Homo sapiens: one gene and its partner. The protein of the gene in region 1 purifies or fractionates together with the protein of each later gene. This does not show direct contact. Each region holds a gene or a part of one and is shown on either strand. Other genes may lie near its edges. The genes, in order: SHCBP1 and USP49.

What was found.
Region 2: the proteins of SHCBP1 (region 1) and USP49 purify together in Homo sapiens (affinity purification with western blotting; 2 studies listed by BioGRID and IntAct, with this or other methods). This does not show direct contact.

What each region holds. Positions count from the first base shown.
Region 1 is NC_000016.10:46,579,780-46,583,691, reverse strand, and holds part of SHCBP1 (SHC SH2 domain-binding protein 1), read left to right. Parts: intron 1-34; coding exon 35-176; intron 177-1,637; coding exon 1,638-1,963; 3' UTR 1,964-3,912. UniProt on the Homo sapiens protein: May play a role in signaling pathways governing cellular proliferation, cell growth and differentiation. May be a component of a novel signaling pathway downstream of Shc. Acts as a positive regulator of FGF signaling in neural progenitor cells.
Region 2 is NC_000006.12:41,894,007-41,897,918, reverse strand, and holds the start of USP49 (ubiquitin carboxyl-terminal hydrolase 49), read left to right. Parts: upstream 1-2,543; 5' UTR 2,544-2,595; intron 2,596-2,780; exon of another isoform or gene 2,781-2,789; intron 2,790-3,912. UniProt on the Homo sapiens protein: Deubiquitinase that plays a role in several cellular processes including transcriptional regulation, cell cycle progression or innate immunity.

The DNA of each region.
Region 1 (3,912 bases):
ACAGTTCCTAAAACATTTGTTTTCAATGTCACAGGACTTCTTAGATGAACATTATGACATTCCCAAGATATCCATGGTGAATAATATAATACATAATAATGAAGGTTATGGTGTTGTCTTGGTGAAACCTACAATCTTCTCTGACCTGCAAGAAAATGCTGAAGATGGAACTGAAGGTATATTTAGTAATTTTTAATATAAAAACCAGACATAATTTATTTCAGCATTAAATGCTGATTAAGGATCTGAGTCTTCCTCTCTTCCTTAAAAAAGGTTGTTGGGATATGCTTGGGCATGGAGAGAGAGAAGCTTGGTAACATTAAGTCATAACATTACAGACTGTGAAAGAAACTTTCAAGGTCAACTAGTTCAACTGTCATTCAAAATCTTGATGTTGTGGTTTCTGTGCAGTTCCCTTCTTATCATGGTTAGCTTTCAATGAGGGTGGATGTGTGATAGCAACGATGGGTGTGTGATAGCAATGGTGGGTGTGTGATGCTATGGTGGGTGTGTGACAGCAACAGTGGGTGTGTGACAGCAATGGTGGCTCCTACTGGCGTTTGTTAAGGCTGGAGACAGTGAAATGAATGTGCCAGGCTGAAGGCTGCATTTCCTGGAGGGGATAGTGGAGTTTACCTCTGTTTTTATTGGTAGAAGTAAATGCCTTCCTGTCACCTGCCTTTCTTGGCAGCGAAGGGGAGCTAACTCAGTGGAAATCTGTGAACTTCAAGCTATGATGTAGACCACTATTAAGTCTCAGTCATAGAGAAGGATTAAGCTTTGATGTAGGTGAGGAAAGTTTAAAGCAGTTTATTTATTTAATCAGCTTTTTCAGGTTGAAAGAGTTTAAAGGGTAGTCCTTGTCATCCTTCAGGATCTGCTCCAGTTACATCTCTGCAAGTTCTTTATTTCTTCACAGGTCTCACAAAAGTAAAATAAAGGTGTCAGCTGGGCAGGACTCATCTGAAAGCTCTGGGGGCAGACTCTGTCTCCAAACGCATTCATATCATTCATGGGCAGAATTCATTCCTTTAGCTCATGGGTCTGAAGTCTCCATTTTCTTGCTGGCTGCTGGCTGTTTGCTGGGGCTGGCACTCAGCTCCTAGAGGCTGCTCTCAGGTTCTTGCCTCATGGCCCCCCCATCTCAGCAACAGAGAACATCCCTCAAGGCAAATCTCTCATGCTCTGAATTTCTCTGACTTCCTCTTTAGCAACCAGCTGGAGAAAACTGATTAGCAATCTTAATTACATTGTAAAATTACAGTGCAAAATTCTTCTGCCATTTAATAGGCATGAAAGTAATACCAGGGGGTGGGGATCATGGGGCCTATCTAGAATTAGCTGCTAGATTGGGACTTCATTTAGAAAAGTGGCACTATCTTATCAATCTGTGCATCCTATCTCCTAACGCAGTGCTTAGCAGATAGTAACTATCCAGGAAATGTCTGTTGAGTAAAAGTGATTCTGGGATGAAAAGGGTAAAGGAAGAGTTCAAAATTGGTGATCCTGTGTGAGGGTCAGGGAACCTTGGTATAGAAAGCAAGGCAGCTGCTTGTTGAGAAGACTGTGTAGAAATATATGTTTTTGTTGGGTTAGCTTGTATATTTAACTTTGTTATTATTTGTTTGTTTCTCCAGAAAATAAAGCGCTTAAAATTCAGACAAGTGGAGAGCCAGATGTGGCTGAAAGAGTGGATCTAGAAGAGCTGATTGAGTGTGCAACTGGTAAAATGGAGCTTTGTGCAAGAACTGACCCTTCTGAGCAAGTCGAGGGAAATTGTGAAATTGTAAATGAACTAATTGCTGCCTCCACACAGAAAGGCCAGATAAAGAAGAAAAGGTTGAGTGAACTGGGGATCACGCAAGCTGATGACAACTTAATGTCACAGGAGATGTTTGTTGGGATTGTGGGGAACCAGTTCAAGTGGAATGGGAAAGGTAGTTTTGGCACATTTCTTTTCTGACTACAGTGATGTAAGTAGATAGCAAAATACTGGATTTTGCACATGCTGCCCTAAGAATCACTGCTGCCATTGTAGTTTGCTGTATTGTCTGTATTTTATATTTGATTATTTGGGCTTGAGTGAAAGGTAGATTTATTTCCATTTGCAGGTGTTGCACATAAAACACTCCCTCTTTATAAGAAAAATCATAAATGCATATAAAATAGAAAATATTTGGAGATTGCTTATCTGAAAGTCTTGCTTTCTTATACACATGGTTCTCTCATATTAAGCCTGGTAGTAACTTTTTAGTGTAATTACCTTTAGCACTTCAAAGACGAGGAAGTAAGGAAGGGAATGCAAGACTAGTGCATAAAAATGCAATAGGTGTCATATGTACAGCATTCTTCTTAGAGTTGCCTTTTCATCCCAATTACAGTGAGTCTGATTTCCATCCTGTATTTGCATAATACTTGTCTTAAAATAAAAGCTTTTATGATTGGGAATTTATCTGCCTAATCAGACTTATTATTGAGACGTCAATGGGACGCATTTTTCTGTTGAGCTATGCAGTCGTCAAAACAGCGATAGACAGCATAGGAGGTTTGAAGCAGAAATGAAATGTGTTATTCAGAGCCAATGTTGTACATAGAGCATTTTCACTATTGCTGAATGGGAATGATTAAAAACAAGGTATTTTTCGGGCCAGGCGGTGGCTCACGCTTGTAATCGCAGCACTTTGGGAGGCTGAGGCAGGAGGATCACTTGAGCCCAGGAGTTCAAGACTAGCCTAGGCAACATAGTGAGACCCTGTCTCTACTAAAAATAAATTTAAAAAAAATTAGCTGAGTGTGGTGGTGCATGCATGTAGTTCCAGCTACTCAGGAGGCTGAGGCTAGAGGATCCTTGAGCCCAGGAGGTTGAGGCTGCAGTGAGGTGTGATTGCGCCACTGCATTCCAGCTTGGGCGACAGAGCGAGACCCAGTCTCAAAAAAAAAAAAAAGTATTTTTCTCTTACCGTTACAGTATTCTGATTATATTACTGACACAGTCAAAATGATTAACTGTACAACCTGTATCTGCTGGGTGTTCTTGTTATCATATTGTAAAACAGCTTTAAAAATATTTATATTTTAAAAACTGTATGTGACATTAATATGCCTAATGATTAAAATTATAGTGATGAAATAACAAAATTGAATCTTGTTATATCTTTTCAAACTCACTGTGGGCCATAGTGTCAGTGTAGCATATGTGGTCATTTAAGAATACATGGTATTTTGGTATCTGTTTTCATGCTTTAGAAAGAGTATTACATTTTTTCCCATTAAGTGTGGTTATGTTTGTTTTTTAAATTTGAGTAAAAAATAATTCTTATTTTTTGGATGCTACTAAATGTAGGATTTATGTTAGATTTATTATTTGATCATTGAAAGGTATTTTTACTTTTAAAAAATCTTGTTGCAAGGAGGTTTAAAAAGTAATGTTCATTTCTGCATCAGTTTCAGCCAAATGTTGATATTAAAACCTTTTATTCTTTTTTTTAATTTTTGCCTCTAGATGTGATGCCTTAAGATAAAAACCATTTATTCAACTTAAAAAAAAATCACTTTTTTTTTTTTTTTGAGATGGAGTCTTGCTCTGTCACCCAGGCTGGAGTGCAGTGGCACTATCTCGGCTTACTGTAACCTCCACCTCCTGAATTCAAGCAATTCTCCTGCCTCAGTCGCCTGAGTAGCTGGGATTATAGGTGCCCGCCACCATGCCCAGCTAATTTTTTTTTTGTATTTATTTTATTTTTATTTTATTTTGTTTTGTTTTTGAGATGGAGCTTCACTTTGTCACCCAGGCTGGAGTGCAGTGGCATGATCTCGGCTCATTGCAACCTCAGTCTCCTGGGTTCAAGTGATTCTCATGCCTCAGCCTCCCAAGTAGCTGGTATGACAGCCACCATGCCTGGCTAATTTTTG
Region 2 (3,912 bases), on another chromosome or scaffold:
CATGAAGAAAGCTATTAATTCAGCTCCAAACTCAAATTGCAAGAGTGCTTTTCCTCAAGACAAATGTTGTACTTAAAAGTGCTTGATGCATACATACATGCATTTAATCACATAAACGTGTACTTAAATAAAACAATTTTTATTGTCTTCATCAAAGACCTCTTAAATGAAACAGGTGGTTTTTTTTTTTTTTTTTTTTGAGACAGTGTCGCACTCTGTTGCCTAGGCTGGAGTGCAGTGGTGCGATCTCGGCTCACTGAAACCTCTGCCTCCCAGGTTCAAGTGATTCTCCTGCCTCAGCTTCCCGAGTAGCTGGGATTACAGGTGCGTGCCACCACGCCCAGCTAATTTCTGTATTTTTAGTAGAGAGAGGGGTTTCACCATGTTGGCCAGGCTGGTCTCGAATTCCTGACCTCAAGTGATCCACCTGCCTTGGCCTCCCAAAGTGTTGGGATTACAGGTGTGAGCCACTGCACCCATCCGGCCTGAAACAGGTGTTTTTTTACTGTAGCAGTGAAGAATACCTTGACCTCTAGCACAACTTGGTGCAGTTGCCTTGATTTGTGCTAAGGCAGCAGTTTTACCCATTGCTACTTTTGTATCATTGTGCAAATATCATCACAGTGACAATGCAGATATGTCTCAGTATTATTAGGAAAATCGTTTTGATCTCAGGCACCCCACTATCCCCCCAGCCCAAAGGGTCTCAGAGATCCCTAGGCCTTTCCAGGCGACACTTTTTTTTTTTTTTTTTTTTTTTTGAGATGGAGTCTCACTCCGTTGCCAGGCTGGAGTGCTGTGGCACGATCTCAGCTCACTGCAACCTCCAACTCCCTGGTTCAAGCAATTCTCCTGCCTCAGCCTCCTGAGTAGCTGGGATTACAGGCACACGCCACCACGTCCGGATAATTTTTGTATTTTTAGTAGAGACGGAGTTTCACCATGTTGGCCAGGCTGGTCTTGATCTCCTGACCTCATGATCCACCTGCCTTGGCCTCCCAAAGTGCTGGGATTACAGGCGTGAGCCACCGTGCCCGGCCTCCAGGCCACATTTTTGAGAACACTGATCTAATACATGCTCACATCACTGAGAAACTTTTCCTCCTGTATTGCTATTCTGGGAGCATCCCTTCCATTGGAAGTTTTAAGTGGCTCCCAAATTCTTCACTCAGCAAAAGCACCTTGTTATGGAACTAACATTGAATAAGTAACAATCTTTCTTCTCCAAGAATTTTCTTGGGGATTGTTGAGTAAGGGAATAAGACATATAATTAGAGTTATAATGTTAAGAATTCCTTAAAAAGAATTATGTTAACTGTGATGGACGACAAAGGGAGAGCTAAATTCTGAATCTAACTCTGAGGCCTTGAACCTCATGATAAATCCCGACCAAACCAAATTGAAACACTCCACTTCCTCTCCTTCTATCAAACCTCTTTTAAAAGTGCAAGTTGTTAATAAATTGCCTACACAGCGCTTGGTCCAGGCATTGTAGTTTCCCCCTTCCTATTGTGTGTGGTGTTCTTTTTTTTTTTTTTGTGCTTACCTAGTTCTCCTGTTTACAGGTGTGTAACTTGAGCCACTACTATAGCTAATGTCTGTTTCTTTTACTTGTCCTTATATTTAAATGTAAGTCTTTATCTGCCTTAGCTATGTGTTGGGTGTTGAAATTGTTGATCTTATTTTGGGAGACTCCCATCCCCTCCCCCCACTACCACCCCGCAAGTAGTTTCAAGACAGTGCACCTAGGAGACTGCTTAACCTAAGCCTTTTGTAGCTTAGGTGCTGTTCTGTTTCCCAATGGACCACTACCAAGTCAGTCTGGTTTATTTCCCAAGCCTTACAATCTGCTGAACTTCTTCAGTTCCGGCAGCGATCCTCTAACTTGTGGGGGATTTCCATAAAACAGCTGAATCTCTCTTGGGTCATCTGTGGCAAAAGCCAGACACGTGCTCACCCGCCTGGGAGCCAATAGTAACTTTTGCAAACGCTGCCTCCGGAAACCCCACGGTTTGAGGGCTGCTGCTTTAGGAACAACACAGAAATAACGTCTTTTAACAGAATAAAACAAAACATACGGACGGGATAGTGAGAAAGCCTTTGTCCTTCGCAGTGGGGAGAGGTGTTAAAGGTGAACCGAAAAGAGTATGGGAAACTCATGTAAAATACCTTTACAGTTCCCCGGGAAGAAGGGGGCGGAGATGGGCTCGGGAGCGTCTCTGGCCCTTTAAGGAGGAGGGACAGACATAAGAGTCTGTACCTTTAAGAGTCTCTTTGTCTGGAAACCTTCTTATTTACCCTCCTGTGCTTCAACCAAACTTCGACCAGCTATTCACAACGTCCCCCTACGCCGCCGCCCCTTACGCCAGGCTCAAAGCGGCCGCGCGTTTGTGGCTGACCCTAAACTTTGCGCCTGCGGCGCGAACCCTCGGAACGGGTGCCGGTGCCGGGGTCGCGGCCCAGCGCTGCGCCGTTGGCGCAATGCAGGGCCTGAGGGGCGGGGCTCCAGCGGGCGGGCCAATAGACGGGCAGGGGGCGGGGCCGTGTTCGGTTGTCTCGCGCCCTGGTGACAGCTCGCGCGTGCTGATGATGGCGGTAAATAGAGGGGGCCGGGGGAGGGGACGGAGGAGGTGGGGAGGCAGCAAAGTGGGTAGCTCCAGGGGGTAGGGGGAACGGGGGCCGGGGAGGCCGCGACGGCCAGGGAGCCCATTCTAAGACTCGGAGGCGGGGATAGGAGTCTCCGGCTCACTAGCCCTCCCCTTTAAAGAAGCAAAATCCTCACACACCGGGTGAGGGGCGACAAAGGCAGCGCGCGCCTCGCGGGCGGGAGGAGCGGCGGCAGGGGGCGGGACCGCGGCGCCGGCGGGCTGGGGGCGCCCGGGGCGGGGGCGGCGGGAGGCGAGAGCCGGGAGTCGGGGCGCGCGGGCGCCTTATTTTGGCGGGGTGGGCGACGGCTGGGTTGGGGCAAAAGCGTTGAAGGGAGAGGGAAAGGAAGGCTTGGAGGCGATGAGGGGAACCGGGTTGAGAATGAGATGAGGAGGATTAAGGGGAGAAAGGGTTAGAAGCCAGGGAGAGGAGGAGTGAGAAAAAGCCAGCCAAGGAGATAGGAAGGAGGCAAAAGCCAGGGTGGGCGTTAAGGAAGCCGGGCAGGGAATGAGGTTAGGGCTGGGGAAAGGGATCCTGGGGTTAGGTGTAAGAGCAGGGGTTTGAAGGGGAAATCTTCGTAGCGGGTGGTGTTGGGGTGAGGGGTACCGGGGTAAGTGTTGGAAGTGGAAGACAAGGAGGGGCAGAGCTGGGGTAATAGTTGGGAGTAGGAAAGAGAGAGTGATTAAGAGCCAGACGTGACGAGGGTGTGAACTAGTGCGGAGCGAGATGAGCTGAAGGACTGGGACCAACGGTGTGGTGGGAACTGCTGGCGAGGTTCTGAGAAAGGAATGGGTTAGTGGGTGGGCGATGGATGTAAATTCTGTAAAGTGAGGGAGGGCAAATGAGACCTGGACTGGAACCAGGTGGAGTCAGGAATAAGAGTGTGGTGGAAGGGCGAAAGGAAACAGATAAGAGATGGGTGTCTGTAGGACGATTCTGGGACCAGAAGAGCTGAAAGGAGACTAGAGTTAGGGTGTAAGAAGTGATGGCCATCTGGGACAAGGATAACTGGGTAATTACGTTAATTGAAGAGGTTCAGCAAGATCCAAGGTGAAAACAGTGAGGTAAAGAGACAGGGCTAAAAGCAAATGGTGAGAGGAGCAGGAAGAGATGGGCCCCAGAATTTAAAGGATGAGATGGGGAGTAAGGGAAGAGAGGGGGCTAAGAGAAGCTGGGGGAGTCCTGATGGATGTAGAACTGGGGTAGACTGCAGGGGGGTGGGAATCGAATGTGCGTGTTATGGGGAGTTGCTCCAGAAGGTCTGCA